Homo sapiens: one gene and its partner. The protein of the gene in region 1 purifies or fractionates together with the protein of each later gene. This does not show direct contact. Each region holds a gene or a part of one and is shown on either strand. Other genes may lie near its edges.

Region 1 (3,500 bases):
ACCAGATCTGGGCTTTTGCAGATTCACACAGGAAAAACACAGTATTTGTAAAAAAAAGTCACACGCACACAATCCCCAACACTACGAGCACTGTGAGTTACATTTGCTTATTAATTTAAAAATATTTTCAAGGATAGTTTTAAAGGGAAGAGATTTGAATAAAAATAATAAGTACTTTATTTCTGAATTTAGGCAGTATTTGGAAACTAAAAGAAACATTAAGAAAGGTATGATAACTCACTGTTTTAAAAAATGCAAACACCTTATAAGTATCACAAGCCTGTATTTTTTTAAATTGGTGGTTGCTTCTTTTCTCCATTGGAAGATACCGAGCAGACAATTCACAGTTCATGTGAGTTTACTTATCAGTCAAAAAGAAATACTATTAATATCAATCTCTGGCTAACTTGCTTTATATTATTCAGTCAAGTGGAAAGTATGAGTAGAGCTCTAGTCAGGTTCTAGAATGACTAAAAATGGCATCTGCAAACTCTCTTTTTTTAATTAGGAAAATTCAGGGCTGAGAGAGAAAACAGGAACACTAAAAGTAATGTTTTTCTAAACATCATACACACAATTTCCCATTTTTTTGCTCCTATATTTTACTTAGAAGCTGCTTAACAAACAAGAAGTCTGTATTTCACTTCTCATCACCTCTGCTCACACGACTGGTTTTTTTAAAGTCCTGCAGCAATCACAAATGCTACAAAAACCACATGCAGAAGAATTTCACCTTACAGTGAAGAGTTTTAAGGTAATAGCTCCAGAAATACAAAGTCTAAAAGCGAGGATATCCTGTTAACCAAGAACTCAAAATGCTAACTAAATAAAATTACTGCAGGAGATTGTACATATATATTTTTAAAAGCATAAATATATGCTTTTTACTGACGAAATGATAGGAATCTTGGAATGTTTTATCCTTCAATTTTTAAAAAAACAATAGTAACAACCAAAGTGTACTGAGTCCCATCTTCTCTCAAAGGCTGCCTAACTGCATGTAAGCCTAGGCTGTTTCTTTTGAATTTGATCTCCAAATTGGTTGTACAGATCTTCACAAACATGAAGCCTAAGCACTTCCTCCAAAACCCTCCCTTTTGTTTTCCTTTAAACCCTCAGATCTTACCTTACCTGTGTTACTATTAATCCAGATTCCCTGTCTTCAACCTCTTCCTTCCTCAATTCATTCTTTACTCTACAAGCGAATTCATCTGCTTTTCGATGAATGCTTTTATCAAGTCATTTTCCACATACCAAAGCTTGTACTCCTGAAAAAGTCTACACTTATCAACGTAGCATTCAATGGCTTAAAAGTCTAGCCCCAATCTCCATAATTCTCCCTTATCTCCATATTTTCTAACTATACAAAAGCCTAGGCTTCTGTCAAATTAATCACCTGTCCTCCAACTTCTCCTGAACTTTCTTTCTATCTTGGCACATGCCATTCCTACCACAAAGAATGTCCACCATTCCCCTCCTGCTGCCACTGCTCACCACAGCCCATTTGCATTTCAGTATTTATTCATGTAAACAGAAACACAAAAATGAGATATTTCTTGCCCTTGAGGAGACTGGCAGAAAAAACAAATTTAACGAAAATAGCTAGTTTTTATTAAATACCTATGTGCCAAGTGGTCTTACACATTATTCTAATCCTCTCAACAATCCTATGGGGTAGATATTATTCTCCTTTTATAAAAATAAGGAAGCCAAGGTTCAGAAAAATCAAATCATACACATATTTAGCAGGTTGCCTCCAATCATGTACTTAGTAAGTGGCAAAGCAAGGACACAAACCCAGGCTGCCCAACTCCAGAGCTACTGCTCTAAACATTCACAGATTTTTTTTTTGTTTTTTCAAAGTCAGAACCATGTGACTACCCCCCTCATCTATCTGAAATAATTTAGTTTTACATAATATTTATATTTATTACATACTATAAAACAAGCTTTCTCATGTTTGTCATTTTAATAAAAGAACATTAAAATTCTAGCTCTCCAAAAAAAAAAATGCTGAAATTCCAACTTTAATCAGTAATTTTTTTTTTGGTCACAGATTACTTTTACCTAAAATATTTTTAAAGAAACTCATTTCAGGACAATTGCAAATTTCTTTCATACACTATGATGGTTTTACAGATTATTAATAATATGAGGATTTCTGCTATTACCACCCAAGAATGTAACAGATATCTATCACATTGGCAAAGATTGTAAAAACTGACCTACTCAATGCCATTGAAGGTGCAGTGAGACACATACTCTTATACACAGGGTAATCACCCTCTGATCCAGTTATCCCACTTCTGGGAATCTATCCTACAGGAAGAAAAAAAAAACAGAGATGCAATCAAAGATACATGTACAAAAAATGTCTGTCCCAGTGTTATTTAAAACAGTAATATTATAAAGAATCAACTTTAAAGTCTCAAACTAGGAGACCAACATCCCATTCAGGAAAAAAAAGTATGATCAAAACAGTATATATAAAGTTATAATTCTAAGTTTCGTAAAAAAAATAAATAAAAAATCCGTACATGCAAGGAATAAACTGGAAAAATGTATATTAAAGTATCAGTAGTAATTTTTTCTGGATGATAGGATCATGGATGTTTTCAATTTATTCTTTACACTTAACATTTTTTTCAAAATTTGCCACAGTATAACATGAATTACTTTAAACAGAAAAAAAAATGTTTAAGCAGTTATAACCACTGAAAAAGATCCTGAACCTAACAAGGGCATATTACTTGGAATAAGAAATACATTTCCTAGTGCAAAGAAAACGTCAGACTTGTTACCAGCTTCTATTATGCCCAGCAGCTTGTTTCCAGCTTCTATTATGCTCACCTTTACTTTTAGGTTGTGTAAAGAATGTCATCCAAAACTCAGTAGTACCTGTATTTATGAAACTGCACAAGGCTCACTATCTAAAAGTCAGCCAATGTTCCAAGAGAAAGAATCACAGTTAAATGGACTATTTTATTATATATGTCTACTGAGAATAATACAAGTCCAATTAATCCAAACTCAAAACATGCAAAAATGGAAAAACCAGAAAAATTGTTCTCATTTTGCAAACTAACTAAATATATTATTGTTGCCTTATAAACACATCATAATTAATTAGGTCGGGAGAGAAGAGGATCTTGAAAATAAAACTGTCAAGCTAACAACAGTCACTAAAAATGCACATTTACGCATGCTATTTGCACATTTCTGTCCTAGCAGATACTTGACTTTAGTGGCAAAGGATGATTTTAATCAGTGTAGAAAAAAATATTAACATCCCATTCTACAAAACAACTTCTGACGTTAAACAGAGAATTGAAATTGCTAGCTGAACCAGGAAACAACTTCCCTACAACGTGTGTATATACATGCATATGTGTGTGTGTGTGTGTGTGTGTGTGTGTGTATGTATACATATGCAGAAAAGCTATTTACAAAAAATAAGTCTTGGACTGAAGTAAAACAGGCAGTAAAGCAAACAATTCTTA
Region 2 (3,500 bases), on another chromosome or scaffold:
ACAGTCTTGGCTCACTGCAACCTCTGCTTCTTGGGTTCAAGCAATTCTTAGTGCCTCAGCCTCCTAAGTAGTTGGGACTATAGGCATGCGCCACCATGCCCAGCTAAGTTTTGTATTTTTAGTAGAGACGGGATTTCACCATGTTGGCCAGGCTGGTCTCAAACTCCTGGCCTCAAGTGATCTGTCCGCCTCAGCCTCCCCACGTGCTGGGATTACAGGCGTGAGTCACTGCATCTGGTCAGAATAGATCTACTTTTTAATGATCAAAAAAAAAAAAAAAAAAAAGCACTGGGTGCAGCGGCTCATGCCTGTAATCCTAGCACTTTGGGAGGCCAAGGCAAGCGGATCACCTGAGGTCAGAAGTTCAAGACCAGCCTGACTAACATGGAGAAACCCTGTCTCTACTAAAGATACAAAAATTAGCCAGGTGTGGTGGCGGGCGCCTGTAGTCCCAGCTACTCAGGAGGCTGAGGCAGGAGAATCGCTTGAACCCAGGAGGCGGAGATTGCGGTGAGCTGAGATCCTACCTTTGCACTTCACCCTGGGCTACAAAAGTGAAAGTACGTCTAAAAAAAAAAGAAAAGCAAGCATCACTCACCTTTAACATACTGGTCCCATTGTTTTCTGTAATCTGAGTCCATATAGATGTCTGCCAGTAGAGTTGGTGAGCAGTCCTCCAGAACACCAAAGACTTTATACTCATAAAGTCCAGTCTTCTATAAAAACAGAACAGGTAGAAATGTCTATTGGTTCCCAAGTTGAGAGAAAGCTGCATTCCACATAATTAAACTAAAGAGCTTCTGCACAGCAAAAGAAACTACCATCAGAGTGAACAGGCAACCTACAAAATGGGAGAAAATTTTCACAACCTACTCATCTGACAAAGGGCTAATATCCAGAATCTACAATGAACTCCAACAAATTTACAAGAAAAAAACAAACAACCCCATCAAAAAGTGGGTGAAGGACAAGAACAGATACTTCTCAAAAGAAGACATTTATGCAGCCAAAAAACACATGAAAAAATGCTCACCATCACTGGCCATCAGAGAAATGCAAATCAAAACCACAATGAGATACCATCTCACACCAGTTAGAATGGCAATCATTAAAAAGTCAGGAAAAAACAGGTGCTGGAGAGGATGTGGAGAAATAAGAATACTTTTACACTGTTGGTGGGATTGTAAACTAGTTCAACCATTGTGGAAGTCAGTGTGGCGATTCCTCAGGGATCTAGAACTAGAAATACCATTTGACCCAGCCATCCCATTACTGGGTATATACCCAAAGGACTATAAATCATGCTGCTATAAAGACACATGCACACATATGTTTACTGCGGCTCTATTCACAATAGCAAAGACTTGGAACCAACCCAAATGTCCAACAATGATAGACTGGATTAAGAAAATGTGACACATATACACCATGGAATACTATGCAGCCATAAAAAATGACGAGTTCATGTCCTTTGTAGGGACATGGATGAAATTGGAAATCATCATTCTCAGTAAACTATCACAAGAACAAAAAACCAAACACCACATATTCTCACTCATAGGTGGGAATTGAACAATGAGAACACATGGACACAGGAAGGGGAACATTACACTCTGGGGACTGTTGTGGGGTGGGGGGAGGGGGGAGGGATAGCATTAGGAGATATATCTAATGCTAAATGACGAGTTAATGGGTGCAGCACACCAGCATGGCACATGTATACATATGTAACTAACCTGCACATTGTGCACATGTACCCTAAAACTTAAAGTATAATAAAAAAAAAAAAAAAGAAAAGCAGCTGATGACGACGTTCATGCCACACCAAACACTGACCTCCTCTGTGGTCTTGGTGACACAATGATAAAAAAGCAGGTGCAGGCCCTGCTCTCAGAGATCTTAAATTCAGGTAGGCAGCAGTGCTAGAGATAGCTATAAGTGCCATCTAGGTAATTTAAATAGGGTAAGAAGAGTTGTGTGATAAATGATGCCTTGCAAGGGCGGGGATGGGGAGGACATCTATGTAATCAGGTGATCAGGAAAGGCCTCTATGAGAGTTAACATTTATCAGAGCATCTTGTTCCAAATGTTGGAAGAAGCCAGCCATAGGAAGATAGGAAAAGCCCGTTCCTGGTAGAAGGAAGGTCCTCAGATTGGTGGGCTGGCATCTTTAAAGAACCTGGGGTCTGGAGAACTCTGGATAAAAGAGAGAGTGGCAGGAGCTGAGGTTAGAGAGTTTGTCAGGGCTGGACCCCAAGGACTTTGTAAACCAGGGTAAGAGGTAAAGATTTTATTCTCATTGCTATGGAAAACTAATGGATGGCTTTAAACAGAGGGATGACCAGATCTGATTCGTAATTCAGTTTAAGAATGACGCAATCAAATTAATTTTTTAAAGGTGATTCTTGCTGCTTGGTAGAAAATAGATCATCAGAGAACAAGGAGATGGGTGAGAAGACCAGTGCAATAGTTCAGATAAGAAATGATGGTGATTTGAACAGGGAAGTAACAACAGTGATGGCGAGGAGTCAGTGATTTAAGGATATATTTTGGAGGTAAAGTAAAAAGGAATTCCTGATAGATCCTGGGGAAAGGGAAAGCAAAGAATCAAGGATAACTTTCATAACCCAAGTTGGGCAGATGGGAATGCCATCTTCTAAGACAGAAAAAAAACTTGGAGAAGAGGTGATTGGTGGGCTTTTGGGGTAATTAAGAGTTCTCTTTTGAACAAGTTGAGTTTAAGATGTTTATTAAGCATCCAAGTAAGGGTGTCACATAGGCAGCTACAGTTCTCGAGAGAGGTTATATTTTAAATAGCCATGTGGCATAGTGAAACCCAACACATTGTTTTATCAATTCCAAGACAGAATTTTTCAACAACTGCTTCTTTTTGATTCTGTATAAAAGACTGAAAATGAAAAACAAAAGAAATCTGCTTCAAATCATATAAGTTCCTTTGATTTGGGAAAAGGCCTTTCTAGATTCCAAAGTACAAGAGAGTTCCCTTGTTTCCTTGGTAAGCCATATTCTTGTCCATGAGGGTCCTGGCCTAGAGTTGCCCCATCACACATTTCACTCTCTGTACGGTGGCAATTTACAATTCCTGACCCTCAGCTTTGCCTAAAGGCTCTATTATTAAAATTAAAGCAATGGCTATTAGATTAATTTCAACACAAAGGCAAAGAAACAAATGAACGAACATAAACTTTTGGATGAACTCTTGCATCCATGTGCTAAGGCCGTGTTACTGGTTAATCATGCATGAATGAAGCCCTCTCTGTAAACACTGTGCCATGGCCTGAGGGGAAGTCAAGGAATAAACATGCTGAATCTTTCTAGAGATCCTGAAGCTTTAAGGGTCTTCTAGCTTGGGTGGTATAACCTAGGGATAAATACATCCCGGTTTAGGAATCTCAGATGTATGTGAAAGTACCTGGCAAAAAATGAATGTAAAATTGAAAATGAATCCATAAGAATCTTCCAGCTCTAAAAGCATGTGA

Evidence for each region.
Region 2: the proteins of RAP1A (region 1) and PCTP fractionate together in Homo sapiens (co-fractionation; one large-scale study listed by BioGRID). This does not show direct contact.

Annotation. Positions count from the first base shown.
Region 1 is NC_000001.11:111,626,289-111,629,788, reverse strand, and holds part of RAP1A (ras-related protein Rap-1A precursor), read right to left. Parts: intron 2,320-3,500; exon of another isoform or gene 2,226-2,319; intron 1-2,225. UniProt on the Homo sapiens protein: Counteracts the mitogenic function of Ras, at least partly because it can interact with Ras GAPs and RAF in a competitive manner. Together with ITGB1BP1, regulates KRIT1 localization to microtubules and membranes.
Region 2 is NC_000017.11:55,764,551-55,768,050, reverse strand, and holds part of PCTP (phosphatidylcholine transfer protein), read right to left. Parts: intron 717-3,500; coding exon 599-716; intron 1-598. UniProt on the Homo sapiens protein: Catalyzes the transfer of phosphatidylcholine between membranes. Binds a single lipid molecule.